4 linked regions of the Homo sapiens genome follow. The protein of the gene in region 3 purifies or fractionates together with the protein of the main gene of each other region. This does not show direct contact. Each region holds a gene or a part of one and is shown on either strand. Other genes may lie near its edges. The genes, in order: GNL3L, MELK, PROZ and SIK2.

What was found.
Region 1: the proteins of PROZ (region 3) and GNL3L purify together in Homo sapiens (affinity purification with mass spectrometry; 2 studies listed by BioGRID and IntAct, with this or other methods). This does not show direct contact.
Region 2: the proteins of PROZ (region 3) and MELK purify together in Homo sapiens (affinity purification with mass spectrometry; 2 studies listed by BioGRID and IntAct, with this or other methods). This does not show direct contact.
Region 4: the proteins of PROZ (region 3) and SIK2 purify together in Homo sapiens (affinity purification with mass spectrometry; 2 studies listed by BioGRID and IntAct, with this or other methods). This does not show direct contact.

What each region holds. Positions count from the first base shown.
Region 1 is NC_000023.11:54,533,213-54,540,236, reverse strand, and holds part of GNL3L (guanine nucleotide-binding protein-like 3-like protein), read right to left. Parts: intron 1,198-7,024; coding exon 1,136-1,197; intron 103-1,135; coding exon 1-102.
Region 2 is NC_000009.12:36,659,890-36,666,913, reverse strand, and holds part of MELK (maternal embryonic leucine zipper kinase), read right to left. Parts: intron 1,565-7,024; coding exon 1,333-1,564; intron 1-1,332. UniProt on the Homo sapiens protein: Serine/threonine-protein kinase involved in various processes such as cell cycle regulation, self-renewal of stem cells, apoptosis and splicing regulation. Has a broad substrate specificity; phosphorylates BCL2L14, CDC25B, MAP3K5/ASK1 and ZNF622.
Region 3 is NC_000013.11:113,154,068-113,161,658, reverse strand, and holds the start of PROZ (vitamin K-dependent protein Z isoform 2 precursor), read right to left. Parts: upstream 3,012-7,591; 5' UTR 2,999-3,011; coding exon 2,929-2,998; intron 2,461-2,928; coding exon of another isoform or gene 2,395-2,460; intron 1,646-2,394; coding exon 1,482-1,645; intron 712-1,481; coding exon 687-711; intron 1-686. UniProt on the Homo sapiens protein: Appears to assist hemostasis by binding thrombin and promoting its association with phospholipid vesicles. Inhibits activity of the coagulation protease factor Xa in the presence of SERPINA10, calcium and phospholipids.
Region 4 is NC_000011.10:111,724,443-111,731,373, reverse strand, and holds the end of SIK2 (serine/threonine-protein kinase SIK2), read right to left. Parts: 3' UTR 4,410-6,931; coding exon of another isoform or gene 4,317-4,409; 3' UTR 3,322-4,316; coding exon of another isoform or gene 3,164-3,321; 3' UTR 519-3,163; downstream 1-518. Other genes in the region: PPP2R1B (serine/threonine-protein phosphatase 2A 65 kDa regulatory subunit A beta isoform), read left to right, coding at 3,164-3,321. UniProt on the Homo sapiens protein: Serine/threonine-protein kinase that plays a role in many biological processes such as fatty acid oxidation, autophagy, immune response or glucose metabolism.

The sequences.
Region 1 (7,024 bases), on a different chromosome or scaffold from region 3:
CTTCTTTAATTCAGCCTCTCGATTGGCATGATCATTGGGGTGAACAAAATGAGGTGCAGAGGGCACTTTGGAGGTTGCTTTCTTCCCATTTTGCTTTGCAGGCTGGCCACCACATAAGAGAAAAAAAACAGAGGTAATGAACCCATGGAAATCACCTCAAAAAGGCAGCAAGAAGCCCTAGAAGGAAGACAACATCCCCTCATAAATGCCCCTTCTATCTCTCAATCCTCTCATCCTCTCATCCCCTCACTCCCAAGGTGAGCAGCAGGAGTTAAAGCTTCTCAGATAAGTGTAGTTGTGGGGACAAAGAAAGGAGAGAAGCAAAAAGGGCTCCATCCCCAAAGATCTGCCCATCTGGCTGGGTAGAGGTCCTCTCTCCTATAGCTAGGCAGGGACTGACAGGAGACCTCTCAGAGGGGAAGGGCAGCTGGGAAGGTTTCCCAAGGCCCAGGGAAAACCTTTCTAGATAAGTGACTCTCAAAAGAGTGGTCCTCAGACCAGCAGTAGCAGCAGCACCTGGGAACTTGCTAGAAATACAAATCATGGGATGCCATGCCAGACCTACTGAATCAGAAACTCTGAGGTGGGGCCCAGCAATCGATGTTTTCCCCCATCCTCCAGGTGATTCTAGAGGACTGGTTAAAGTTTGAGAGCTTCACCCATGCTAAATTGTGAGAACCCAAGCCTTCTCTGGCCTATACCTTCTTCTCATTGCTCTTTCCCAAGCCTTACTTACCCACACCTTTCCCAGCAGGACCAGGAGATCCAGGAACCAAAGATGATGTTTTGGCCTCCCTCTTCTCCATAAGAAACAGGGACTTGAGAATCAGACAGTCTCAAATCCCAGTTGCGTTACCTTGAACCTAGGAACTTTCTCACTGACAGTTTCCTCAACTAAAACATGGGGATAATGATAATCCCTACCAAGGTAAATCAAGCACGAAGCTGCATATGACTTGGGAAAAATGCTGCTGATTCTCTGCTGCGGCCACCCAGAGAAGGAGGGAAAGCCAGATCCACTGACTCCAATGTGGCACTCTGTCCAGAGTCACCCAATATTTACTGGGTTTAGTGGGCCTCTCCCAGGACAAGCAACCTGTTCTTGACCTTACCCTCAACAACAGGCATACCTTACCTGAGGGTAGGGCCAACTTATCTTCTTGTGGCCCTTGGAACCTTCACCTGGCTTTTTATTTTCTACAAAAGAAAAAAAAGAAAGAAAAGAGCCGTCATCCATCTACACGATATTTGTTGACATCTGAATCAAGGCCAGGCCACACTGGGAACCTAGCTAGGAAGCCTCAGATACCATGTCTGTCTAGATCCAGCACAAGACAAGAGATGCGGATGGCAGCAATAGTATCAGAGGAAGTACTGGATATAATATTTGCACATTATTTCACTGCAAACTCAAATAATTCTGAGAGGAATTCTGTACAGAGAGAAACCTGAATATGTGCTTGTGACTCCTCTTTCCCCCAGAACTTCCTACTGGGGGAAACTCAACAATTTAAGTGCCAGGCTGAGATGAGGGAGCTGGCAGAATGAGAAGGTAATCTAAGGAGTCCCAGCCCACTAAACCTGGGCAGATGCCCTCAGTATGTGGGGAAAGAACCATCCTTCCTGCTGACCCTGCTCAGGCCATTGCCTCCAAAGGGACTTGACCTACTCAGCCAAAATGCTGCCGCCTCCCTCAGATACAAAAAGAAGAGATCTACCACTTCTCCAATCATGACTTAGCAAAGCCCAAGAACTTATGAGGCCTCTCCCCTTCTTCAATAAGAAGTCCCATCTCTCAACCCGTTCACAGTTGGCCTATTGGGAAGAATGGCTCCCTTTAATTCTTACCACCTTCATAGGGGCTCAAGGAATTCCTAGAGAGACAGGAGTTTCTGGAAGCTCAGGATATATACAAACAAATATATTATATGAGCAGCTCGAGAATACCACACAGAGAACAGGCTCCACAATCACATCAGTTGGCTCCCACTGCAGAGTTAAGGTACGAAACAGAACTTAAGTTCTACTGCAAATTCTTTTTATTTTGAGACCGACTCTTGCTCTATTGCCCAGGATGGAGTGCAGTGGTGTGATCTGGGCTCACTGCAACTTCTGCCTCCCGGGTTCAAGCGATTCTCCTGCCTCAGCCTCCCGTATTCGTATACAAAAATACAAATTTTTGTATTTTTAGTAGAGATGGGGTTTTGCCATTTAGCCAGGCTAGTCTCGAGCTACTGCAAATTCTTAAGGAGAATCAAGAAGATACTTCAAAGGAACTGTGTGAGAAAAAAAGATTTTCCAAAACTTGACACTGAATAAAAATTCAAAAGCTGGGTGCCGTGGTGCATGCTTGTAGCCCCAGCTACATGAGAGGTTAAGGTAGGAGGATCCCTTGAGCCCAGGAGTTCTAATCCAGCCTGGGCAACAAAGCAAGACCCCATCTCTTAAAAAAATACACAAACACAGACTGCTTTAACAGTCAAAACTTAAGCTGGGCACAGTAGCACCTGCCTGTTGCTAGCTGGGAGGCTGAGGCAAGAGGATCACTTGACCCTAGGAGTTCGAGAACAGCCTAGGCAACATAGTGAGACTCTGTCTCTTAAAAAAATTCAATAGAAATAGTGAAAAACAAAAAAGACATCACTAACAACCAAATTAATAAGCTAGAAGACCAAAGGAGGGGCTTACTTAGAGCAAAAATTCAAAGAAATTGAAATGATGAGCAAAAATATAAAAGAAAAAATGGACAATAGAGCCAAGACAGCTAAAATCTAAACAGGAGTTCCTGAAAGAGAAAAGGGTACAAATGGAGAAGCAATAATTTTCTGAATAACAGACGAAAGTTCCTTAAGTTGAACATAGGCTTGAGGTTTCAGACTGGAAAGACACAGGCAGCAGCAAGATTAACAACCAAGGCCGGGTGCCATGGCTCACCCTGTCATCCCAGCATTTTGGGAGGCTGAGGTGGGAGGATCGCTTGACACTAGGAGTTTGCGACTAATCCAGGCAACATAGTGAGACCTTGTCTATATAAAAAAAAAAGTTTAATTAACCAGGTGTGGCGGCATGCACCTGTAGTCCTAGCTCTCAGGAAGCTGAGGCGGGAGGACTGGTTGATCCCAGGAATTCAAAGTTATAATGAGCTATGATGGCACCATTGCACTCCAGCCTGGACAACAGAGACCCTGTCTCAAAAAAAAAAAAAAAAAAGATTAACAACCAAAAAGACATACCCTGGACATATCCTGATGAAATTTCTGAACTCTAAAGATAAAGAGATAAAATTCTAACCAACAGATCACTCTTACTTTGTGAAAGTAAGAAAAAGACATTTTCAGGTGAGCAAAGATTACCACTTGCCTTTCTTTCTTTCCTTTCTTTCCTTTCCTTCCTTCCTTTCTTTCGTCTCTCCCTCCCTCCCTCCCTCTCTCTCTCTGTTTTTTTTTTTTTTTGAGACAAAGTCTCGCTCTGTTGCCCAGGCTGGAGTGCAGTGGTGCCACCTGAGCTCACTACAACCTCCACCTCCCAGGTTCAAGGAAATCTCCTGCCTCAGCCTCTGGAGTAGCTGGGATTACAGGCGTGCACCACTGTGCCTGGCTAATTTTTTTATTTTTAGTAGAGACGGGGTTTCGCCATGTTGGCCAGGCTGGTCTCAAACTCCTGGCCTCAAGTCATTGGCTCGCCTTGGCCTCCCAAAGTGCTGGGATTACAGGCATGAGCCACCACGCCTGGCCCTGTGTTTCCTTTTGGATAAAACTACTGGCAAAATAAAAATTAAATCAGAATAAAGATCCCAAGCTAAAGGAAACAAACAGTGGTGGGCAGGAAATCTACGGAAATCTACTAAAACTTATCACTGAGGCCAGGAGCGATGGCTCACAGCTATAATCCCTGCACTTTGGGAGGCCAAGGCGGGTGGATCACTTGAGGTCAGAAGTTCAAGACCAGCCTGGCCAACATGGTGAAACCCCATCTCTACTAAAAATACAAAAATTAGGAGTTTGAGACCAGCCTGCCCAACATGGTGAAACCCCGTCTCTACTAAAAATACAAAAATTAGCCGGATGCCTGACTTGAGGTCAGGAGTTTGAGACCAGCCTGCCCAACATGGTGAAACCCCGTCTCTACTAAAAATACAAAAATTAGCCGGGCGTGTTGGCACGCACCTGTAATCCCAGCTACTCGAGAGGCTGAGGCAGGAAAATTGCTTGAACCCAGGAGGTGGAGGTTGCAGTGAGCCAAGATCGCACCACTGCACTCCAGCCTGGGCAACACAGCAAGACTCTTGTCTCAAAAAAAAAAAAAAATTAGCCAGGTGTGATGGCACATGTTTGTTGTCCCAGCTACTCAGGAGGCTGAGGCAGGAAGATCACTTGAGCCCAGGAGGCGGAGGTTGTGGTGAGCCATGATCACACCTGCACTCTAGCCTGGCCGACAGAGTGAGACCCTGTCTCAAAAAAACAACAAAAAAAGGATTCTTAAAATCGAAGAAGCATATCATAAGGAAATAGCTCAGAACTGAAATACCAAATTATTTCAATAAAATCCAGGAATCAAGTAATGGGGGTTGGAAAAGCAAAAGCATGAAAGCATGCTAAAGGTTTCATTTTGAAAGGGTAGGTTACAAAATAGTCATTATTTAACTTTGGTAAAGTGATAAATACAGAATTAATTATGTTTGATATAAATATGAATACAATTACCAACATAACTTAATTACCGATGGAGGATTGTTTAAAAACTTCATCAAGTTAGCAAAACATAAATAAGGGAATAAGAGGAAACAAAATAAATAATAAATATAAAATAAGATGGTAGAGAGCCGTGCACGGTGGCTCACACCTGTAATCCCAGCACTTTGGGAGGCTGAGGTGGGCGGATCACTAGGTCAGGAGTTCGAGACCAGCCTGGCCAACATGGTGAAACCCTGTCTCCACTAAAAATACAAAAATTAGCTGGGCATGGTGGCAGGCACCTGTAATCCCAACTACTCGGGAGGCTGAGGCAAGAGAATCGCTTGAACCCAGGAGGCGGAGGTTGCAGTGAGCTGAGATCGCGCCATTGCACTCCAGCCCGGGTGACAGGGCGAGACTGCATCTCAAAAAATAAATAAATAAAAAATAAGACGGTAGAAATCTGACCAGACATAAACGTCTCATAACAAATGTGAATGGGTCGAATTTAAATAAACACAGTTTAAATAAACACGAAACAGACCACCAGTCTCCTTTCTTCTAAAGTACTCATGTTGCAACAACAACAACAAAAAAAATGTGAGGTTTGGAATGAACCAGGTCTGGACATTTCACTCAACAATTTCCATCTGCCTAACTTCCCTGGAAACTGAGTGCCTGCAATGGATACAAGCACACAGTGAAAGAAAACACATCACTTGGAGAGAAAAAGAATGTGCTTCAGAGGGGAGAAGAGAAGGGGGGAGGGAAAAAGGAGAAGGGGGTGCAGTCAGTCATCCCTCCCAGCACTCAGGAGCCTCTGCTCATAGGTTTTTCAACAACTCCAGAGAGAAAACAGCTACCATTTTATAACCAGCAGACATTCTTACTCTGGCTCAACAACTACCTAGCTATATGACCTTGAAGAATTTTTTAAAACCTCTCTGAGCCTCAATGCATCCACCAATATCATCTAGGCCTAAAATCACCAATTCATCAGTACTCAAAAGCAGATCTCTGTATTCGCTAATCCCTCATCTCCCATACTGTCACCCACAGATGTCCCTGTACACCCACTGACTTCATTCCCCTCATCCTTCCTCTGCCGTAGCATCAAATTTCCCACAACATTCTCTGAAACTCCCACCTGGGTGATCAGCACTCCCCTAACAACCTCTCCCTGGGATCAATTGTCCAAGCTCCTGCCTTGATACTTGGCTCTCCCAAGGACAATGCTTCACTTGCAGGCCTCTCAAAAGGTGGTTGTTGTTTTCACTGCCACACGTTTATCCGGGGGTCAGTAGGTAGAGAACGTAGCCCTCCAGACTCACCAGTGCCAAGCTGAGACTATTTTTCCCTCTTGTTAAAAAGAAAAAAAAAAAAAACCAGGTGTGGTAGCTCACGCCTGTAATCCCAGCACTTTGGGAAGCCAAGATGGGAGGATTGTTTGAGCTCAGCAGTTCAAGCCCAGCCTGGACAACATAGAAAGACCCTCATCTCTATTGAAAAAAAAAATTAGTGGGGCATAGTGGCAAATGCCTGCTTTCAGTTAGCAAATCTGAAGATCTTTCCATCTAATAGTCTTTCCACACAATACAGTTTTTCCATATAATCTTTCTATATGATACTACTTTATCTTTTAAACAGCCAGAATTCTTAAGTATGCATATATCCTACTTTATTTAACGAGGTAATTTTTGTCTTTTCCATCACTATCAATATTTCTATCATCTAGTATTAGATGTTCCTAAATAAAGTATAATTACCACCTTTCTTGTGTTACTTATAAATATGATTATTTGGTCGGGCATGGTGGTTCACGCCTGCAATTCCAGCACTTTGGGAGGCCAAGGCAGGCGGATCACTTGAGGTCAGGAGTTCAAGACCAGACTGGCCAACATGGCAAAACCCCGTCTCTACTGGTAACAAAGCAAGAGTCCATCTCAAAAAAACATAAAAAATAAAATAAAAGTATGATTATTTGCTTTTGGTATTAACAGTATGATTCTTGATGACATTTTTATGATTATATAAAAAATGTATTTTTTTCCCACCAAGCTGTCCACTGGCAGGGCCAGCATTCACACAGAAAACAGAGCACAATCCTCATCCAGCCTGCCCAGTGCCAGTGTGCTATCCAAATGTTATCATTTTCTTTTCTTTTTTTGTTTTGTTTTATTCCTTTTTTTTTTTTTTGAGACAGCGTCTCACTCTGTCGCCCAGACTGGAGTGCAGTGGCATGATCTTGGCTCACCACAACCTCTGCTTCCCAGGCTCAAGCGATTCTCCTGCCTCAGCCTCCCAAGCAGCTGGCATTACAGGCACGCTCTTAATCACTAGTACAACTTATG
Region 2 (7,024 bases), on a different chromosome or scaffold from region 3:
CACCATCACACACACACACACACACACACACACACACACACACACACACACACACACACAAACACAGACATCATCAGGACACCAAACTGGCCTCACATTTTGGCGGAAAGTGTTATTTGAGTTGATGAAATGGAAAATGACGTTAACATAAAAATGGGACTTCTAGCAAATATTCTGGCAAAGTCTTCCGTAATATCTTTATAGACAAGAAGTTAACCCCTCAAACTGGCTATGAGCTCCATTAGTACACTAGAAGCACAATGGCAGGATGTGGTTTCCCAGCAGTTCACATGGCAATGCTCCAGAGTTTAGGTTTGTTAGAATCTTGAAACTTGAGAAGGTCACAATTGGTGGGGGGAAAAAGGCTAATAAAGTTTAGGTAACATTTTTTAAAGTGACATAAACAGGATCACTGTAAATAAAATTCCTTTGGGCTCTAATTTATTAATTCATTACATAAATATGGCCCCTATTATGTACTAGGCATCAGGTCTAGTACTGTGTACTATGTACCAGACAGGTATGGCCCCTACTACAGACCATGCCATGCTGCAATAAACAAGGCAGAGAGTCTCTACTGTCATGACACTTACCACTCTACCCTAGTGAGACCTAGTCTAGAAAACTCAGTTTAGTTCTAGGCACTGTATTCTAAGAGGCAGTCTGATCAAATAGAATGTGTCCAGATGAGGCCAGCAACCAAAACAGTGAAGTATCATAAAGGAAATGGTTTAAATAACTGCTCATGACTAAATTGAAGAGGAAACCAAGGGAAATGAGGAAGTTGTGATAACTGGACAAAGACAGATATCTGGAAGGGCATCATGGATTCACCCTGCCTGCTGAGGACAGGCAGTAATACCATAGGGCAGAACAGGACCAGACACCACAACTGGAGATCCAGATAAGTAAAGGCTCAGCGGAGGCGTCAGCTTGAGTCATAAGTCGGGGTAAATGGGCATGAAAGGTCTAAACCTGGGTATATGACCTTGGGCAAATCACTTCACTCCTTCTGAGTCTCAGGTTTCTTAGCTGTGAAAAAGGGAGTTGGATTAAATGAGCTCTAACTTGCCTTTCAGCTTTGATATCCTAGGATGCTATGATTCAATTTTATAAACGTGAAAAAGAGGAAAAACTTGGTATCATTTGAGAATAAATTGAAATTGACAAATATGCTTTCATTTTAACTAATGCAAATGACATGATAAAAAACAGCTTCACTTCTCCTAGAAATTCCTGAAAGCAATGCTAGTCATTTCTGACCTGCTATATGTTTACTTAACATGGTAAGAAAAATGAAACTTCTTACTGCTTAATTCACTTAGCAAATACCTTTTGAGGGTGTAGTGTAACGATTTGGCGTAGTGAGTATTTCTCTCTTATGCTGGTTCTTATTAACTGGAGTCTTTGGCTCAGGAAACATAAAGTACTCTTCATTCTTTACAGCAGACTTAGGAGTATATACATTTTCTTTGTTCTTTAATTTATTTGCAGGTGTTCTGCATAAGGCTGGAGTTAATGATTTAGATTCCACCCCATTTGATTCTGTCCAGTACTTGGTAAACTGGAAAAAAAAAGTTACTAGATAAAGCACACTGAAGAAGAAAAGTCAATTTCTTTACAACATTCCTTGATCATTTGCAAACTACCTTGTACTATTTTTATTAAAATGAATTATCAAAAGGATATTATTGACATTAGGAAATTTGAAAATATATAGTTTTCTTTAATACATGTAGATCACTTTAGTCTGTTCTATTGACAGTAATTTTCAACATGATACAGGCTGAGTGTATACACATACTCAGATCCTAGGCAATATTGTGAATGGCCACAAATCAATCACTAAGAAATGCTTTCCATACCTAGATAGTCACGGCTTGCCTCTGACATGTACCAAAAAAAAAGTTTAGTCAGCAATTAGGGCAGAAAAAACATGTTAAACTACTCTAACAGAAATATTGGATAAAAAATACTTTTTAATCCTTTTAAATTTATGGTTGAGCTTGCAAGAGAGTAAGTAAAATCCTGAGAGGCCAAACTAAAAACATGAGAATGAATCCAAAGGAGTAACCAAGGCTGAAACTCTCTGCTGCCCTAAGGGCAGCTATCTTCTGCCTCTGATAACCTATAGCATGTGTTTCTACAGCCACAGAAGCCTTGGGCCTCTGCAAGGTGGTGAGTTAGAACCAAAGCTCCCATGTAAAGCCAGGAAGGGCTATAGCTAAAATTAAAGGCTGAGTTAAATATAAATCTGCTCTTCAAAGGGAATAGGCAAGAAAAAGGGTGTCTTGGTCTTGGTTCTGAGGGAGGAGAAAAATGAAGTTTCTTTTAATAATTTGTAAGTAAACACAGGCCAGTCTTCAGATAAATAAAGGTCCAAATTAATACAACCTGCATGGTCCCAGAAACCTCAAGCCTAAATTTAACTTAAAGTAGTCCTATGCTAAGTTGTGCCCCAGGAACCTGGTAGAAGCACGCACAACTCCTACCTGAAAGAAAAGCTTCACTCCAACCCAACTCAAGCCCTTAACCCAAGCCTCAGATAATTCCCATAGAGTTCAAAGAAAAATAAACCTACATAAAAAATTCCAAAAGACACAAGCACTATGAGCATAAAGATTTCAGATATTAAAATTATCAAATACAGAACATAAATAAGTATGTTTGCATGTTTAAAATAGTGAAACAAAAACATGAGTAAAGAACAAAAGACTACCAAAACTGTTCAAATAGATTTGAAAAAGAATAAAAACTTCTAGAAATAAAAACATGATAAAAATGAAAAGTGCAATGCACATGTCAAATAACAGAATAAAAGAAATAGAGATATTTTAATAGAAATATAAATCCGAAATAACTCTGAATGTAGCCAAGACAGAAAAAGACATACGATACGTGAAAGATGGTTGAAGGAAACAGAAAATGAAATAAAATGTCTAACATAAGGCTATTCTAAGTTCCAGATATACATAGTATGGACAATGCAAAAGCAGCAATTCCCTCTACTTCTTTTCCCAAAGGAAAAGAAATCAATACATCAAAAACATACCTGCACTTGTATATTTATCTCAGTACTTATTCACAATAGCAAAGATACAAAATCAACCCAAGTGTCCATCAACAGATGACTGCATAAAGGAAATGTGAGATAGATAGACAGACAGACACACAGATAGAATACTATTCAACCATAAAAAAGAATGAAATCCTATCTTTTGCAACAAGGTGGATGGAAGTGGAGGTTACCTTAAGTGAAACAAGCCAGACACAGAATGACAAATATTGCATGTTCTCACTCATAAGTGGGTGCTAAAAAAGGGTGTACACGTGGATGTAGAGAGTGGAATGATAGAAAATGTAGACTTGGAAGGGTGAGGAGATGGAAGGGGGTTGGTGATGAGAAATTACTTAAGGGGTGCGATGTACATTATTCAGCTGACACCTTAAAACCTCTCACTTGACCACTATGCATCTAAGAAAATTGTACTTGTACTCTATAAATTTATATAAATATTGTTTTAAAGAAAAGCAGGCTGGGTGCGCTGGCTCACACCTGTAATCCCAGCACTTTGGGAGGCCAAGTCATGTGATCACCTGAGGTCAGGAGTACAAGACCAGCCTGGCCAACATGGTGAAACTCTGTCTCTACTAATAATACAAAAATTAGCTGGGCATGGGGACAGGCACCTGTAATCCCAGCTACTCGGGAGGCTGAGGTAGGAAAATCGCTTGAACCTGGGAAGCAGAGGTTGCAGTAAGCTGAGATCGTGCCATTGCACTCCAGCCTGGGCAAGAAGAGAGAAACTCTGTCTCAAAAAGAAAAAAAAAAAGAAACAAGGAAAAGGAGAAAAAGAAAAAGCAGTATATTATTCAAGAAATTTTCAAAAATTGATTAAAAATACAAATCCCCATACATAGAAAGCATGATGAATCATGAACTGGATACATAAAAGAAATCCACATCTCTATTTACCAGATTATACAACTCCAGAGGACACTATCCACAGAGACACCACACAGATGGTGTGTTCCCTGGAGGTGTGCAACGCAGTAGCCCTAACAGTGAAACTGCAGAACACCAAAAGCAAAGAGAAGGTCCTAAAAGGAGCCAGAGAGAAAAGACAGACTAAAAAGGCACTAGACTGAGGTTGGTTTTTCAATAGCAACAATAGAAGCAAGAAGAAAGTGGAATAATATCTTCAATAACATCCTGTGAATCCATAAATATTTCAAAATAAAAAGTTAAAAACATTCAAGAGCTAATACACTGGACACATCAATAGCATGGAATCCAGGAGGGGTAATCAGAGATTAAGTGTTCTAAGGCCTTCATATTGTTTAGAAGGAAATTAAACATACAGATTCACAGCAGGGTGCAGGGGCTCACGCCTGTAATTCTAGCACTTTGGGAGGCCGAGGCAGGTGGATCACCTGAGGTCAGGAGTTCGAGACCAGCCTGGCCAACATGGTGAAACCCTGTCTCTACTAAAAATACAAAAATTAGCCAGACATGGTGGCGGGTGCCTGTAAACCCGGCTACTTGGGAGGCTGAGGCAGGAGAATCACTTGAACCCAGGAGGAAGAGGTTGCAGTGAGCCTGAGATCACGCCATTGCACTCAAGCCTGGGCAACAGAGCAAGATTCCATCTTAAAAAAAAAAAAAAAAAGATACAGATTCACTTTATATTTCGTTAAATTAAATGTTAAAAATTTAGAGTAAATATTAAAAGAATAGAAATCAAATAGAAACCAATAAAATGTGGGGGGAAATTAACATAAAAAATCAAGAAATAAGGGGGAAATACAGAAAAAGACACATAGGAAACATAAAAAAAGAAAGATATATAATAACTAAATCCATAATAAAAATAAGTTGGGTAAGCGCTCAATTCAAAAGACAAGATTTTCAGTTTGCATACCAAATCTAGCTATGTTTTTTTCTTTGTTTGTTTTGTTTTTTTTTTTTTTTTTTTTGAGACGGAGTCTCGCTCTGTCACCTAGGCTGGAGTGCAGTGGTGCAATCTCGGCTCACTGCAAGCTCCGCCTCCCGGGTTCATGCCATTCTCCTGCCTCAGCCTCCCAAGTAACTGGGACTAGAGGTGCCCGCCACCATGCCCAGCTAATTTTTTGTATTTTTTAGTAGAGATGGAGTTTCATTGTGTTAGCCAGGATGGTCTCAATCTCCTGACCTCATGATCCACCCACCTTGGCCTCCCAAAGTGCTGGGATTACAGGCGTGAGCCACCGCGCCCGGCCTAGCTATGTTATTTTTAAAGAGACATACCTAAATATAAGGTATGAAAGGTTTCATTGTTTTATTTGTTTCATTGTTTTATTTATTAAGGAAATCTTACTTTCTTTAATTTTATAATAGTTCTTTTATCAGGTTGACCAGTTTCCTCCCATCTTCTTATTCTTTAGGAATGATTTAGTTATTCTTGCCCCTTTGTATTTCCACATACATTTTAGAATCATTTTGACTTATTTTACATCCACTGAAAAGTTGAGATTACATTAAATTTAAAATTCATTTTGGGAAAAACTGAAATCTATACCTTCAAATCTCCCTATCCATAAACAAAGTATACCTCTTTTGTTTCAGAACTCTGTGTATTAGCCAAAGATCGCAGCATTTATTCATAGAAAACAGCTAAGTAGAAACAGTGAGTTTGAGGTGTTTGAATTTGCCCTACCTATCCCCATTCTTCTCTCTCCAGCTCTATGATAGTCTTAGAAACCCACAGCCCACAATCACGATGAAGACCAGCAACCTAGGAGCCGCTGGAGGGGGCAGAACAGGTTGGAGCTCCTTCAAAGCTTCATGCTCAGAAAACTGTCATTATTTAGCCTGGCCAGTAGTTCCCTAGAAGACCCTACTATGAAAGCTGTCTTTTTTTATTCTTTGTTTGTTTTTTATTTGAGACGGAGTTTTGCTCTTGTTGCCCAGGCTGGAGTGTAATGGCGTGAACTCAGCTCACTGCAAACTCCACCTCCCGGGTTCAAGCAATTCTCCTGCCTCAGCCTTCCGAGTAGCTGGGATTACAGGCATGTGCCACCACAGGCAGCTAATTTTGTATTTTTAGTAGAGACGGGGTTTCTCCATGTTGGTCAGGTAGGTCTTGAACTCCCGACCTCAGGTGATCCACCCGCCTCAGCCCCCCAAAGTGCTGGGATTACAGGCGTGAGCCACTGCACCCAGCCTGAAAGCTGTCTTTATTTGACCTTACTCAGAGCCTGCCCAGTATGAACAGCCTTTTCCCCAGCAGCATCTGTTAAAAAGATTTAGAGGTGCCAGGCGCAGTGGCTCACGCCTGTAATCCCAGCACTTTGGGAGGCCAACGCGGGTGGATCTCTTGAGTCCAGGAGTTTGAGACCAGCCTGGGCAAAATATTGAGACCCTGTCTCTACAAAATAATTTTGTAAAAATTAGCTGGGCATGGTGGTGCATGCCTATAGTCCCCGATACTCGGGAGGCTGAGGCAAGAAAATTGCTTAAGCCCAGGAGGTCGAGGCTGCAGTGAGCCATGATCACACCACTGGACTCCAGCCTGGTTGACGGAATGAGATCCTATCTCAAAAACAAAAAAAAATTTACAGGCAATTGTTGCACATTGTGGCTGCCGAAGCAGTAAGTAATAGCTGGTGACCACAATAAACTAACAAAAATGCTGAAAAAAAAGTTAGAGAATAAGATGTCCACAGTGAATTGGAAAAGCTCCAAAATATACCAGGGTATCTACAAGCCCAATGTACATGTATAGGATGTGCTCATACCCAGGGCTGTGCATTTGCTCAGGAAAGACTTTAGAAGGGGCTGGGCATGGTGGCTCACGCCTGTAATCCCAGCACTTTGGGAGGCTGAGGCAGGTGGATCACTTGAGGTCAGCAGTTCGAGACCAGCCTGACCAACATGGTGAAACCTCGTCTCTACTAAAAATACAAAATTAGCCAGGTGTGGTGGCGCATGCCTGTAATCCCAGCTCCATGGGAGGCTGAGGCAGGAGAATTGCTTGAACCCAGG
Region 3 (7,591 bases):
TGCCAGTGCCTCCCACTCTGCTGGGTGCCCTTTCTTCGTCCGCACGCGGTCCCCTCTGTCCCGCCCCATCAGCCCTTCTCCGGCCTTCCCTGCCTCTCCCGCTTCCTTCTGTGCCCAGTTGTCCCCGTGCTTGTCTGGTGGTGGCTGCAGCTCTTTGCTTACTCATTCCCAGGTGGGTCCTTACCCTGGCCTCCCCCAGCCCCGTGGGTCTCCATCTGTGTTACTTCTGTCCCATGCTCTTCTGCAGTTGCCCACCTAGAGCTCCTCCCTTGGGAGGAGTCTCCTAACCAAAGTCTCCATCGGGGCCATGACTTTCCAAAATTTGAGACGAGTTCTGACCCTGCTGCAGCATGAGGCTTCCCAGGAGCCCAGGAGCCAGGCGGCTGGAGGAGCTGCTCTGGGGGGGCCCTCCTGGCCTGTGGCCCATGTCCCAGAGTGCCAAGAAACTACCCAGACACTGGGCAAGACAAACCAGGCACTGCCTGTGGCCCTGGTGGCAGAGCCCGGGGGCTTCCTGACCTGGTCCTTGGGGAGAGTCGGAGCTGCCCTTCCCTGGAGAGACACCGTGGGTCCTGGAGCCAGAGGCTTGGCATCCGCTGAGCTGGGGTCGTGAAGCGTCCTAAGCCCACCCACGCACCTCATCCCGAGGAATTAATACTTCTGAGGAGACGAAGGAAACCACTTACCCTTATATCGTCTCCAGAATTCATCCTTTAGAGTTAAAACATAAAAATGTTACAAATGGGATATTTGTTTTTCTATATTCTTTCCTGTAGATGAACTTGAAGGTAAGAAAATGTTGATTTTATTCACTTAATAGGACAATAGTGGTTGAAACAATGCACAATTTTCCTGTTTTACAGCCTATTTGTTTATGTTAAATGTATAGTAACTAAATGTATCTGTAAGATATATTACTCAACATGTGCTTACCACCACCTATTTGAGGAAGGCCAGAGTCTATGACATGGCACAAACCCACCACCCACAGCCCCTAACGTGGCCCTTCCCTTCTAGGGCCAATCTCCACGCCACCCTCCACAAAAGCACATGATATAGAAGTCACATCACCTTTTCGCTTTTTATAAACCGAGTTGAATTTTAAAGATATATACCTCTGTAGGGAGTGGGGACACTTAGTTTGGGGTAGGAGTATCTAAAATTAGGAGAATTATTCAGACTTGAAGCCTAGAAAGAAAATGTATGCTGGGTGTCTGATCAGTGTGTGGGCCTTGCCTGACCTGAAGAAATGAGTCCAGTGGGCTCTGAGCTGACTTCCAGCCCCACTCACTGCTGTAGGGAAAGGTGGATTAAGTCGATTCTCTAAATTGTTTCCTCATCTGTAAAACTGGGATTGTGTCAACCTCATCGGTAAGTAAATAGGCTAATTAATTAAGCTTAATCTCTGAGAAATGATGCTCCCTGGGCCAGCAGAAGTCTAAATAATGAGGAGGCCTGTGGTTTGTGGTGGGGGTACATACAGTGACTACTTCATTTTCAAACACTTCTCTTGCTTCTTCATAGACACAGATTTCTTCATAACATTCTTTTTCCAAGTTTCCCTCGAAGAGTTCTTCCAGAAGATAGGAGCCCGCACGCTTCCACCTCACCAGAACGTCGTTTGCTTTGGAGGCCGGGAGAAATACTACAGACGAGACAAGAAGGCAGGTGACTGGGAGCACCGAGGGCCCTGCTTTCCAGAGCTGCCTGGCTTCCTCCCCGGCCGGCCGCCAGCCCCAGCCCCGTCCGTCTCCACAGGCTCTCAGCCTGCGAGGGCCTCAGGGCCACCCCGCTACTCCCTCCCCCGAGGTAGGCAAGCACTTCATCCTCTGGGCGAATGGATCAGCCCCAGGATCAGTGCGGATACACTAAGGTTCTGCAGAGAGGCCACGGGCCTCAGTCAGGAAAGTGGAGGAGGGAGGGCTCCAACTGGGTTTTGGGTCTGAGTGCGAAGGAAGGCTGAGCTGGGGTCAAAGGTCCCCGTACTGAGAACTGGGGACCAAGAGCCATCAGCTCCTGTGCTGCCTCTGTGCGCAGCATTTAACATCTTGATAAAACACATAAAGAAGAAACTTATACATTGCAGCAGGCTCTGCGATTTCCAGGAGGAGAAGGCAAATGAGTTGACCCGCGGCAGTGGTCTCTGGAGCCTCTTCCCACCTGAGGGTCCCAAAGCATGTTCTCTCCCTCTCCGGGAGGGTCAAAGCCCAGGCCCTTCCCATCCTCCCTCCTTTTCTCTCGGTGCTGAGGGTTACAGCAGGGGGGGCTCAGCTAAGTCCGGCTACGGTAAGTGCTGGGCAGGGCAGGGCGGGGGGATCACCCTCTCAGGGTGGGAGACCATGGGGCCAGCGGGAGACCATGGGGCCAGCGGGGATGCTGGGTGTTTTGACTTGCAGCTTTCCTGGACGCCTGTGCAGGCAGAGTCAGAATGGAGTCCATGTCGTTCCTTCAGTGAAGTGGCTGGTGGTAGAAGGGTGGCAGGCAGGCAGGGTGGCTGCTCCCTGGCTATGTCTCCTGACTCAAGACTGGGCATTCCTGGCTGGCCTGGCCAAGGCTCTCTCTGCCCACATTGCAGTCTGGGCTCAGCCTGCCCCACCCCCTCCCCTCGTCCAATGCCCAACCCAGGCCTCCCCCCACTCCTCCCCCTTTCCCCCTCCCCTCTCCCCGGCCTTTCCCGGCTGAATCCCCTGCACACAGGCTTCTTTCCATTTGGGCATCTCTTGGGAGGACCCCAAGTGACACTATCATGTCCCAAATACTTGTCACCAAATGATAAAGATCCAAACAGCTTTTTCAGGGGAATTAAGACTAGTCTGGGCACTCAGGGCTCCTCTGGCTCCTGGAAAAAGCCTCATCTACAAATCCACCATGGACCGAGTCAAGAAAGACACAGCACAGGCACAACAGACAGGTAAGCCAGATGCCTACCTGAGGGCTCCACACGATGGAGGGCGAGGACCAGGACCAGGCCCTGGAGCAGTGGGACGCAGCCTGCCATTCCCACCCGGAGCGCTGGGACAGGGCTACAAACACAGCCAAAGTCCAGGCTGGGGGAGGTGCCGGCAGCAGGAGCCTCGGGGCACGACCTGTGCAGCTGTGTGCTTCCCTCCTGACGTTTTCTGTTTGAGGCCAGGCAGAGAAATGAACGGTGAAGGCTCAGAGGACCCTGGGAGATATTTAGGGAGACAGAGAACAGAAGGTAAAGGCAGCAGGTGCAAGGTGGAAGGTGGCACCCATGCCCGTGTGTGGTCAATGGAGGTGAGATAGGCCCTGGGGACACAGCACTGGGCGGGACAGACAAAGTCACATGCAGCTTACGTTCTAGGTGTGTGTGGAATACACAGAAAAGAACGAGGGAAAGAGACAGGAGGGAGTGAGGGAGGGAAAGCAGGAGGATGGAAAGAAGGAAGGGGAGAAAAGGAAGGGAGGGAGGGAGGAGGGAGAAAGCGGGGAAGGGCCAAATAGTGTCTGTCACTACAGCTCAGCACCATTGTAGCAGAGGCAGCATAGACAATCATGAATGAACACTTGGCTGTGTGCCAATAAAGCTTTATTTATAAGAGCTATTAAGGGGCCAGATTTGGCCCCAGGGTTGTCGTTTGCTGCTTTCAGATGTAGGCCCTGTGTATTAGTCCCTTCTTACACTGTTATGAAGAAATAGCCAAGACTGGGTAATTTAAGAAAAGAGGTTTAGTTGACTCCCAGTTCCACATGGCTGGGGAGGCCTCAGGAAACTTATAATTATGGCAGAAGGCACCTCTTCACAGGGTGGCAGCAGAGAGAATGACTGAAGCAGGGGAAATGCCAGATCCTTATAAAACCATCAAATCTCTTGAGACTCACTCACTATCCCAAGAATAGCATGGTGGAAACCACCCCCATGATTCAATTACCTCCCACCGGGTCCCTCCCAGGACACGTGGGGACTATGGGGATTACAATTCAAGATAAGATTTCGGTGGGGACACAGCCAAACCATATCAGCCCTTGAAGCCTGAGGTAAGAACCTGGTGTTTCATTTTCACTGTGTTGGGAAGATATTGGAGGGAACAGGAATTGACATGGAAAGATTTGTGCTCTGAAGGGATCACTGGGCTGCTGTGTGGAGAACAGAACATTCCAGAGAAGTCAAAAGGGAGGCTGCCGGCTAGTCCAGGAGGGGGTGAGGGTGCAGCCATGCAGCAGGAAGCACGTTTGCAGTCTGGATGCTTCAGGAAGGGAAAGCTGATGGGATTCATGATGAATTGTGTCGGGCAGCACGGCTCCAAGGTTTGGGCTGAGCGATTGGGAGGATGGCAGTGCGTGTGCTGAGACGGCCAAGCTCCAGGAGGGCAGAGGGAAGCGAGGTTTGGCAAATTTGAGGTGTCTGTGGGATGTCCAGGTGGAGACAGGAGTGGGCATCCGAGAAGCTGGGACTCACAGTGGAGATTCAGGTGGTAACAGATGAAATGACAGCATTGTCAGCATATAGATATTGTTCGATTGAATGACACTCAAAGGTGGCAAAACTCAATGAAAGGATTCTAAATACAATTTTGTTAAAGTGGGAACAGAAGAAAACTAAGAAGCTGACACCCTTGATTAAGAGGGCATGCCCGCAAATACACTGAAGTTGTGAAGTTTGCTTTAAAAAGCTGGGAAAAGAAAATAAAGTTTATCTTTAGTGAGTGAGTTAAAATAATTTGAAAGCCAGAAGTTGATTGTATAGGATAGCTCTTGGGTGAATTGCACCAGCCTGGCAATCTACGTGGCCTTCACTTAAGAAAAGGTGCCTTTTTTTGTGTGAAAATGTATTCCCACATGGAAATTTACATTAAAAATACTTCTGCTGGATAGTTTAAAAACCATCAATAGCTGCCTAAAAATGGAAAGGCAGACAGGGACATACACATTCGATCAATAAGTGTTAATTAAGCACATCCTATATGCCTGACATGGGTATCTGAGCTACAACCTCTTCCCTCATGGACCATTTTAGTCTGTTGGGGCTGCTGTAACAAAACACCTTAGAGTGGGTAATTTACGATAAACAGAAACGTAGTGCTCACAGTTCTGGAGGATGGGAAGTCCAAGATCAAGGCTCCAGTAGACTCAGTGTCTGGTGACGGCCCATGATTCATAGACGTGTCCTTGGATGGTGGAAGGGAGGAATGTGGGTGCTCCCTGGAGCCTCTTTTGGGAGGGCAGTCATCCATCCATGAAGGCAGAGTGCCTCCCAGAGGCCCCACCTCCTAGTACTATTGCACAGGGGGTTAGGTTTCAACGTGAGTTTTGGGGGATGGTTTGGCTCTGTGTCCCCAACCAAATCTCACCTTGAATTGTAATAATCCCCACAGGTCAAGGGCAGGACCAGGTGGAGGTGATTGAATCATGGAGGTGGTTCTTGTGATAGTGAGTGCATTCTCACAAGAGCTAATGATTTTATAAGGGGCTTCCCCCTGTGATTGACACACATTTTCTCTCTCCTGCCACCCTGTGAAGAGGTGCCTGCTTGCCATGATTATGTTTCCTGAGGCCTCCCCAGCCATGTGGAACTGTGAGTTCATTAAACCGCTTTTCTTTATAAATTACCTAGTCTCAAGTATTTCTTCACAGTGACATGAGAACAGACTAATACAGGAAGGCATCAACATCGAGGCCACAGCTGTGATTGACTGTGTTGTACGTGGACTGACCGTGTTGTATGTGGTGATTTAATTTTCTCATCTGCCTTCTCAAAGATACCACCTTTGGACCAAAAATTCTACAATAATAAATTGTCCAAACATTAAGATTCACCTCGTTCTACTCATCTTCCTCATCTCTCATATGAATAATCGTTCTTCTGTCACCCTCTTCTGTTCTGAAAAACAAACCAACCAACATTGGGACACTTTTTCCATTGACTGGTTTACTTTCCTTCTGTATACCTGAGGAGAATCTTCCTTCCTTTGGGGTCTTTGTCGTGTCCTTCAGATGTTGGGGTGTCCTCTGTGGGGGTCCCCAGCTTAAATCAACTGACCCCACAACTTTGTGTGGAACCTGAAATGAGCAGCCTATGGAGAACCTGGTCATTGAATACTTAGATCTTGCCGCAGTCCCTATTTAAATACCTGTTCAATCAACTCTGGGACCTATGTTTTAGATTTCAACATCTCTGAATTGGCCTGTTCCCTACAGCCAATGTTCTAATGTCAGCCTGGACAAGGCCGAGTTCTTCCTGAAAGGGGTTGTGCTTTATGTTGCCCCCTGGGGGCACTGCCACTTTGCAATCCCTTTAAATACATTTTTTTGTGTGAGTTTTGGGAGCCCATGTGAATAGTGTAAATGTATTGCAAAGCTGGTTCCTGGCTGGCCTGTGGTTTAGATTATCTGAGCTTCCCCCTCTTGCCTCCAGGCTGAGCTGACCCACAGCTAATTTGGGTATATGCTCTTTCTTTCAGGTTCATCAATAATGGTGCGTCTTAGATTCACAGAGTAGAGTGTGGTCTAGTCCACTTTGTGGTGCTGTAACAGGATATCTGAGACTGGGTAATTTATAAAGAACAGAAATTTATTTCTTACAGTTCTGGAGGCTGGGACATCAAAGGTCCAGGGGCCCCCATCTGGCGAGGGCCTTCTTGCTGCGTCATCCCATGGTGGAAGGTGGATGCGCGTGAGAGAGAGAGAGAGAGAGAGAGAGAGAGAGAGAAAGGGGAGAGAGGAAGGGGGCCAAACTCATCCTTTTATTCCAAAATAACGAACCCACTCCTACAATAGTGGTATCAATTCATTCACGTGGGCTCTGACAATGAATGCGTCTTAAAGGTCCCACCTCTCAACACTGTTGCCTTGGGATTAAGTTTCCAACACGTGCACTATAGGGACACATTCAAACCACAGCATGCTGCATCCTCTGATGTCCACATTGTGGATGGAGGTGGCAGCTTATCACCTGGAGCTCCTGAAGAAATTAAAGAGGAGACACATGGTGACGCAGCCCACAGCCTGGCGTTTTTAGCATCTCAGAAGCACTGACAGGGACCCGCAAGCTTATGAGAAACTGTTCAACTCATTGGGCTTCCTCAGAGCTTGGGAGACCATTAATGTGGAAGACACTATCTGGACATGTTTCTCTTTTTTCCACCTGTCTAGATTTTCTTTCAGGATCGGGGAGACTTCTGGAGTAGAAAAGCCACTCCAGAACCCTTCCTCCTCCTCCCCCACACCCCGCCTCATGAGCGGCTGCCCTCCGCGTGGCATGGAGTCCCCGCGTCCACTCAGAACCCTTCCTCCTCCTCCCCCGCGCCCCGCCTCCCCCGCGCCCCGCCTCCCCCGCGCCCCGCCTCCCCCGCGCCCCGCCTCCCCCGCGCCCCGCCTCCCCCGCGCCCCGCCTCCCCCGCGCCCTGCGTCACGTGCCCCTGCCCTCCCCGACGCCCCGCCCCCCACGCCCCTCCTCCCCCACGGCCCGCCCCCCCACGCCCCTCCTCCCCCACGGCCCGCCCCCCCACGCCCCTCCTCCCCCGCGCCCCGCCTCCCCCGCGCCCCGCCTCCCCCACGCCCTGCGTCACGTGCCCCTGCCCTCCCCCACGCCCCGCCCCCCACGCCCCGCCCCCACGCCCCGCCTCCCCCA
Region 4 (6,931 bases), on a different chromosome or scaffold from region 3:
TGTCGAGGCCTTTGGCAGACCCCAGAGAAGATGTGACATCGTGACTAAGTAGCAGTGTCTTTTGCCTGGCAGCTCGCAGCACCTCCCCTCCCATTTCCAGCCCCTGCCCTGTAGCTGCCTGTCCTCGGGGACCCCTGCATCTGCCTCCCCTCCTCCTACCGCGGCATGAGGCCCTTGCCCAGGCTACCTGGGCTGATGCGCTTTGCCCTGGGACTCTGAGAATCAAGGAGCAGTAATTAAGCAGTGCCCAGCAGGGCCCTGTCCTTGTGCAGGCTGCGGTTAGCAGTGCTTCCGTCAGCGATCTGCAGCGGCTAACGTGTACTCGGGCGATTCAGAGCAAGGTATTATTTACCCTGCTGACGTCAATGAGAACATATTATCCACTGTCCTTTTCTGCAGCCTGAAATGAGCACCAGAACTCAGAGAACACAGCCACCTTCCATACTCTAAAAATTCCACCCAAGGCCCGATGAGGCAAAAACCCTATCGCATTAACCTGACATTCACATCACCCGGGCTCTTAGAAAAGAAGTTGTTTTTATTTTAATTCAAGAGGGTTGGAAACATAAAAACAGTACATTTTCCTTGCAGAAAATTACCCCATTTAAATTACTATTTGGTACAGAGATTATTTATTACACTGCATTTTAGGCAATTTTCTAACATTAAGTGACAAGTTATACTTTTGATTTTTTTTTTCACATTGGAGCTATTATGATTTGCACTCATAATACCAAAGCTACTGAACTCACCAATTTTTTTCTTAGTAATTAAAAAAAAGCACACAGAAAATATAACTACAGTTAGATTAACTTTATCAAAAGTAACTCTTTCAGACCAAACATCCAGCAAAACCACCCACCTCCCTTCAGATATAAGCAAATAATCTTGCCCTTTCTACAAAGTGCAGATATCTCTGTATCCCTTTTATTTCTCAAACTGCAGTCCCCGAAGTGAAGCAAACCTTTCTCTCCACTTCTTTCCCCTTCAGAGATTTTGGTGAAGGCAGGTTTCTCTTACCACCCATGGTGGAAAGGTCTCACCACTTGAATTTCCTTGACTGAGCAAATCTTCTGCAGACAGACACCACAGAGCCAGCAGCAGCCCATTATCTGCACTGGGGAATGTGACATTATTCCATCTGGGGTCATATGTTTCCAGGATGTTGTTTTGTACTTCTATTTTTAAAGCTCCCCTCTACCCACCCACTTTGCCTCTGAAAAGACAGAGTATTAAGTCAAAGTCTGTTATTACTTTTTTAATCCTAAAAGTAATAAGCACTTCTAGTTGATGGGGCTTGACTGTAAGGAAATGTTACGCCCCTCGTTGAGACAAAGGCTGAGTTCATGACCGTTCCTGGGGTGGAATCTGCTGGCCTGCAGTGGTGGCCTGATGCCGTGCGATGCGGCCCCTTGGCAATTGAGGAAGGGGGTGTTCTGTAGGAAACTGCTGTATTGTAACTTGGAAAAACTAGACATCTTTGAGGTGAGCCTAAACTTCTGCAGTTAACTGGACGCTGAAAGGCAGGCGGGTCTGCGGGGTTTTTGTCTCCCTCAGCCTGGTTCAGTGCACGGCCACCTGGACAGCTGCACTGTCACCTGAAGGCGGCCTCTTCCCCAAAGCCAGGCGGCTGTTGAGTGGAGAATAAGGTTGTGGGAACAATATCACATTCACCCTGTGCTTGACCAAAATGGGGGCTTTGTTTATACAGCTGTTTGCTTATGAAAAGAGTCAGATGCTACTGAGGAAAGAGAAGGGAAAGAGAGGGCTTCTTCCAGCACTAGAAGCCAGAGAACCAAAACCAGAAGCCAGTCAACCCAAGCGCGTGTCCCAGCTCCTTCTATCACCAGCTGTGATCTCAGAGAAGTCACAAACTTCCCAAAGCTTTGGTTTCTTCAGCTGTGAAAAATAAGGACAGTATCTCCCCAGCTAATTTCATAGAATTGTTGTGAGGGTTAGAAGAGAAAGTGCTTGGTAAAACTAATGTACAAATATAAGCTATTGCTCCCTTGTGGGTGGGCGAGCAGAGTATCTGGGCAGAACCCATCACAGCTCTCCCTGGGTGGGTCTGCGAGCACTGCTGCCGCCTGGTTCTCTATCTGTGCCCCAGTGTGTGCCTGAGTCTGCTGATAGGTTGAAACCTGCCTGGAGAAGATGTGGACACAAGGTGGGGGTGCACGTAGGATGGCTGTCTTCTAGAATCAGCTAGGCTACCTTAATTAGGACAAAAATGGTAAAATAAGAATGTGAGAGGCTACTGGAAGGTGAGAGGCTCCACTGCTTTCGTTCACCTGCCACCAAGGGCCAGACAAGGGCTCTGACATTACAGGTGCTTCAGACCACACTGTAGAACCTGTCAGAAGGGAGATGATAGAAACTTTAAGAAAATCTCTTTGTCCAGTTTAGAAACAGAGGCAGATGATACTGCTCTTGTCTTTTTTTTTTTTTTTGAGGTGGAGTCTTGCTCTGTCGCCCAGGCTGGAGTGCAGTGGCACGATCTTGGCTCACTGCAAGCTCCACCTCCCGGGTTCACGCCATTCTCCTGCCTCAGCCTCCCGAGTAGCTGGAACTACAGGCGCCCACCACCACGCCCGGCTAATTTTTTGTATTTTTAGTAGAGACGGCGTTTCACTGTGTTAGGATGGTCTCAATCTCCTGACCTCGTGATCCGCCTGCCTTGGCCTCCCAAAGTGTTGGGATTACAGGCGTGAGCCACCGCGCCCGGCTGATACTGCTCTTGTCTTTCATACATTGCTCTGAAGATAAGTTCTATAAAAAAATTCCAGGTCGGGTGTGGTGGCTCACACCTGTAATCCCAGTACTTTGGGAGGCCAAGGTGGGTGGGTCACCTGAGGTCAGGAGTTCAAGATCAGCCTGGACAACATGGTGAAACCCCATCTCTACTAAAAATATACAAACTAGCTGGATGCGGTAGCACACACCTGTAGTCCCAGCTACTTGGGAGGCTGAGGCAGGAGAATGGCTTGAACCCAGGAGGTGGAGGTTGCAGTGAGCTGAAATCACGCCACTGCATTCCAGCCTGGGTGACAGAGCGAGACTCTGTCTCAAAAAAAAAAAAAATTAAATAAATTCCAGAAGCAACAAAATGATCAAAGATCCCTGCCTGTACAATGACTCCAACTTACGAGCTTCCCTGTTCTCCAATTTTCACCTTTCATGTTTAGGCACAAAGAGACCGAGTGGCTCGGGTGGCTTCCCAGGAGGCAGTTAGAGGCAGCCCAGTTTAGGAGTTTGAGTGTAGCAGGTCAGCCCTGGCACCGGTGTCAGCCACTGTTCACAGGGACTGAGACTGTGAAATGACACACTGCATATTGTCTCTATAGGAGGTCGAATGGGAAAAAGTTACCTGGAGTATGAATTTTCTTTAAACCAATAGGGAGCTTAAATGTGACTGTTGATACAGGTTTTAAAATGTAATACAAACATATTTACGAACCTGGGGCTTGACTAGAGGCTGGAGGACCCCAAAAAGGAGCGCCACTCACTCACTGTGTCCTTGCATCCTCAACTGCCCGCATGTCTCCAGAGGCTGCTTAGTGCCCACACGCCTGGGACCAACTGTGACTCCAGGCTGCTGCTTGTCACCTTGCCTTAGTTTCTGGCTGATCACCTAATCACTCTGGAGCTGAGAATATCCTTCTCCCCACATCTAACCCGTGGGCAGAATTCTGTGAGCGTTTCCCTGCCTTTAGGACTGATGACACTCGGTGTGTGGGTGGAGGTGGGGGAGTCGTCAGTCTTATGATGAGTCTCTTCTGCTGGAGACTTTGGTCCACGAGAGAGGGTAGGGGGCAGGGGAGAGGCCGATACTCCTACAGGGGGGGTCCCCCCTTGCTCCCCATCAAAATGCAGAGCACCCCATTACTCCAGCACCAGAGTTGGGAAGGGACACAAGAGGCAAGGGCTGGCTTCAGTCTTGGGCTCCTGTCTGTCCCAACCACTGACTCCAGCATACGGTTTAAACACTTGGGAGTTCTTGATATCTGAGGAAGAAAGGGCCACTGACTTTTTCTTTCCTAGGAGGCAAAAGTGGATGGAAGAGAGAAGGGGTTTGCTCAGATGGGCATGAACAGCCCCTGAGCCCCATCCCCACTCCCCTGGTGGGCCCTGATGCTCTCCCACGCAGGGATTCTCAAGGTGGATGGTGTAGAGAACCATCAGCCTCCTTTTCCCACGGTGACAGAAGGCAGTGCAGGCAGAGGTGGCGAGGGGGCAGCTGGGGACGGTCAGTGTCACCGGGAATGTGAAAGTGGGCCCCCTCTTCCTGTCGGGCTAACATGCTGTTTGCCTTACAGGGACCAGTGTATCAGTTGCGTGGAGATACTAGAGACACACTTGCCCAGCTGGGAATTGCAGAGCTAGTGCATTTCTCCCAAAGCACAGACTAATACCCCAGATTTAAAAAAAGAACATAAAAAATAAAGTACCACACATATTGCACTTTTTGCCGAACGAAATTTTTACCTCACGTTCATCTCACCAAAGTCTCTTCAGAGGAGCCTGGTTTACAGGGTGATGAAGCTGATGATGATACAGTAGTGTACACACTGCTAACGTGAATCAGACTGGAAAGCAAGTCAGTACTTCAGAGTAGCCCCGCAGAAAAAGAGCGATACTAAGCCTTCTTAGTGTTTTGTTTGTTAGTAGTGATGAAGAGAAAACTGCTTGGAAGCTTCCATGGGTCACTAGTTAGGGACAGAGCAGCACAGGTGATCAGACAGGGCTGAGCAAACACCTGACTGACCAACAGAACCAGTCTCCTCAGCAGCTTACATTGCAGTCAATACAGAGGGTTATGGAATTTATTGATTTCTGCTTGAAATAAACAAGATAAGCAAATAGGAGCTTACAACACAGGTCCCAGCAGGAGGGGTCACGCTCTGCATCAGGCCGGTGTCCACGCCGCTGCCGTGTGTGACGGATCCTGATAGGCCTGGCTGCTGTAGGGCACCTCTCGATTTCTCTCTGGGTCCTTAACCTTCCAGTAGCCTCTCTGCAGTCCCTCATCGGCTGGCCTAACCGTCCTGCCATAGCTCCCAGGTCTCCTGGGCTAAGCAGCTCATGGCATTGTTGGGGGGCAGGAGTTTATGTCGATCTGTAACTACACCATTCCTGCAGTTCTGAAATGAGTGGCCCCCATTTTCAATCTGCAGGCATTTTAATATCGCAAATATTGTAGCACTTCTGTAGTATATTTTGGGAAAACGTCTTCCTTCAGTCTAAACAAATCAAGCCCCATTTTATAACTGGCTATTTTGTAAAGACTCAAAACAGATTAGAGATCTTAATGAAATGATCTCTTAAATGAAATGATGTTCTTTATTTCACGAAATCATCAATCTTAAGCACGAGCAGGAATAAACAACTCCCAGAAGAAGCTTAATTCATTCTTCCTGGATTTTCACTGTGTGTTATTAAATCACAAAAATGACAGTCCCCACACTGCCCTTTCCCACTGACACCAAGTCCAACCGTGAGCACAGTGCCTCTGCGAAGCATCCTGGCACCCATGGTGAGCGCTGGCGACCAGGCAGTCTCTGGCCAGCAACAGGGACTGCTCAAGTTACCGACGTTGGTAGGAGCTGGGCTCGCATGGCCAGAATGGAACCCCCTAGACTTTCCACACGTCACCTGCCTGAACGCTAACTACAAAGAGGAAAGGCAACTTAAAGGTGTTTTCTAGATGCAGCATCAGTTAGTCCCTCTCTTTGTGCTTTAAGGAAGATGCTTTGTGCTTAACACATTCATCTGCTGATGGGACAAGCCATTCTAAAGGGCAGAAATGATCATCTTTAGAATTAACACTGACTTTGTAACACCTGGATGTTAACTGTCCAAATGGCAAATTATTCATCATTTCTAGGGATACAGTTAGCTAGCTGTAGCATCTAATTTTTACTTACTTTGATGACTGAATTGTAAGTGTTGGTTAAGTTTTATTAGTAATATAATGTTTGGCAGATGATCTGCTTAAATGGTTAACACATCTGTGGTTCTTTCTTTGAATATTGCTGTAATACTTGAACATTTCATTACAAGTCAAAACTTTAACGAAATTAAGAATGCTGATTCCCACATGGTGGAAAACAAACTCTGAAGTGACTTTGGATTTAGCATTGACATAAATGGAAACTGTTGGTTTCTACAGAAAAGAAAGAATTAAAGCATGATCTGGGGGAAAGGCACCGCACTACCACTTCACATGGGACAGAAAAGTTCATTTATCATGTCCTTAAAATCTCTAAGCCCTATATGAAACTGTCCAAATATACAAAGCTCAATAAACTACTAGCAACATATAGTGTAAGGTCAAAGTAGTTATTACATCGGAAAAGAGACAACAGGTACCCTGGAGACCGACTGCCCGCAAGCCAGCAGTGTCCACGAGAAACTGCAGGAAGAGCCTGTCTTCCCTGGCCCAGGGCTGGTGCTCTTGATGCGTTCTTGAGTTTCTTGCCCCCTGCCTCCACGGTGGCGGGTCTCCTGTCAGTTCCACGTGTGACACCTCTGGAGTCCTGAGTATATTCTGACACTCGGCAACCCAGGGCACCTTCTGAAGGGGTGTGTCACCTGCTTCCGAATGGAGATGAAGGCGGTTTCTGGGGTCAGTACCAGCTGTTATTTAGTGGCCCCTGAAACACAGCTCATGCCCCACTGCTTTGTGATGGCCTTGGGGGACAACTTGCATCAGCAGCTAAGAACTTAGGATTCAATGACAAAGCACAGCTTTCCTTTATTTCCTGTGCATCTGATTTCCTGATGTCTTCTTGATTTGCCTTGTAGCAATATGTGGTTGCTCAGCTTCAGTGAAAAATATATTGCCTTTTCCCCCATATATATGCAATAGCACACACCCTTTCTGCTTTCACCAAGGTTGCCCTTGATAATAAACGGATGTAATCCTGCATAA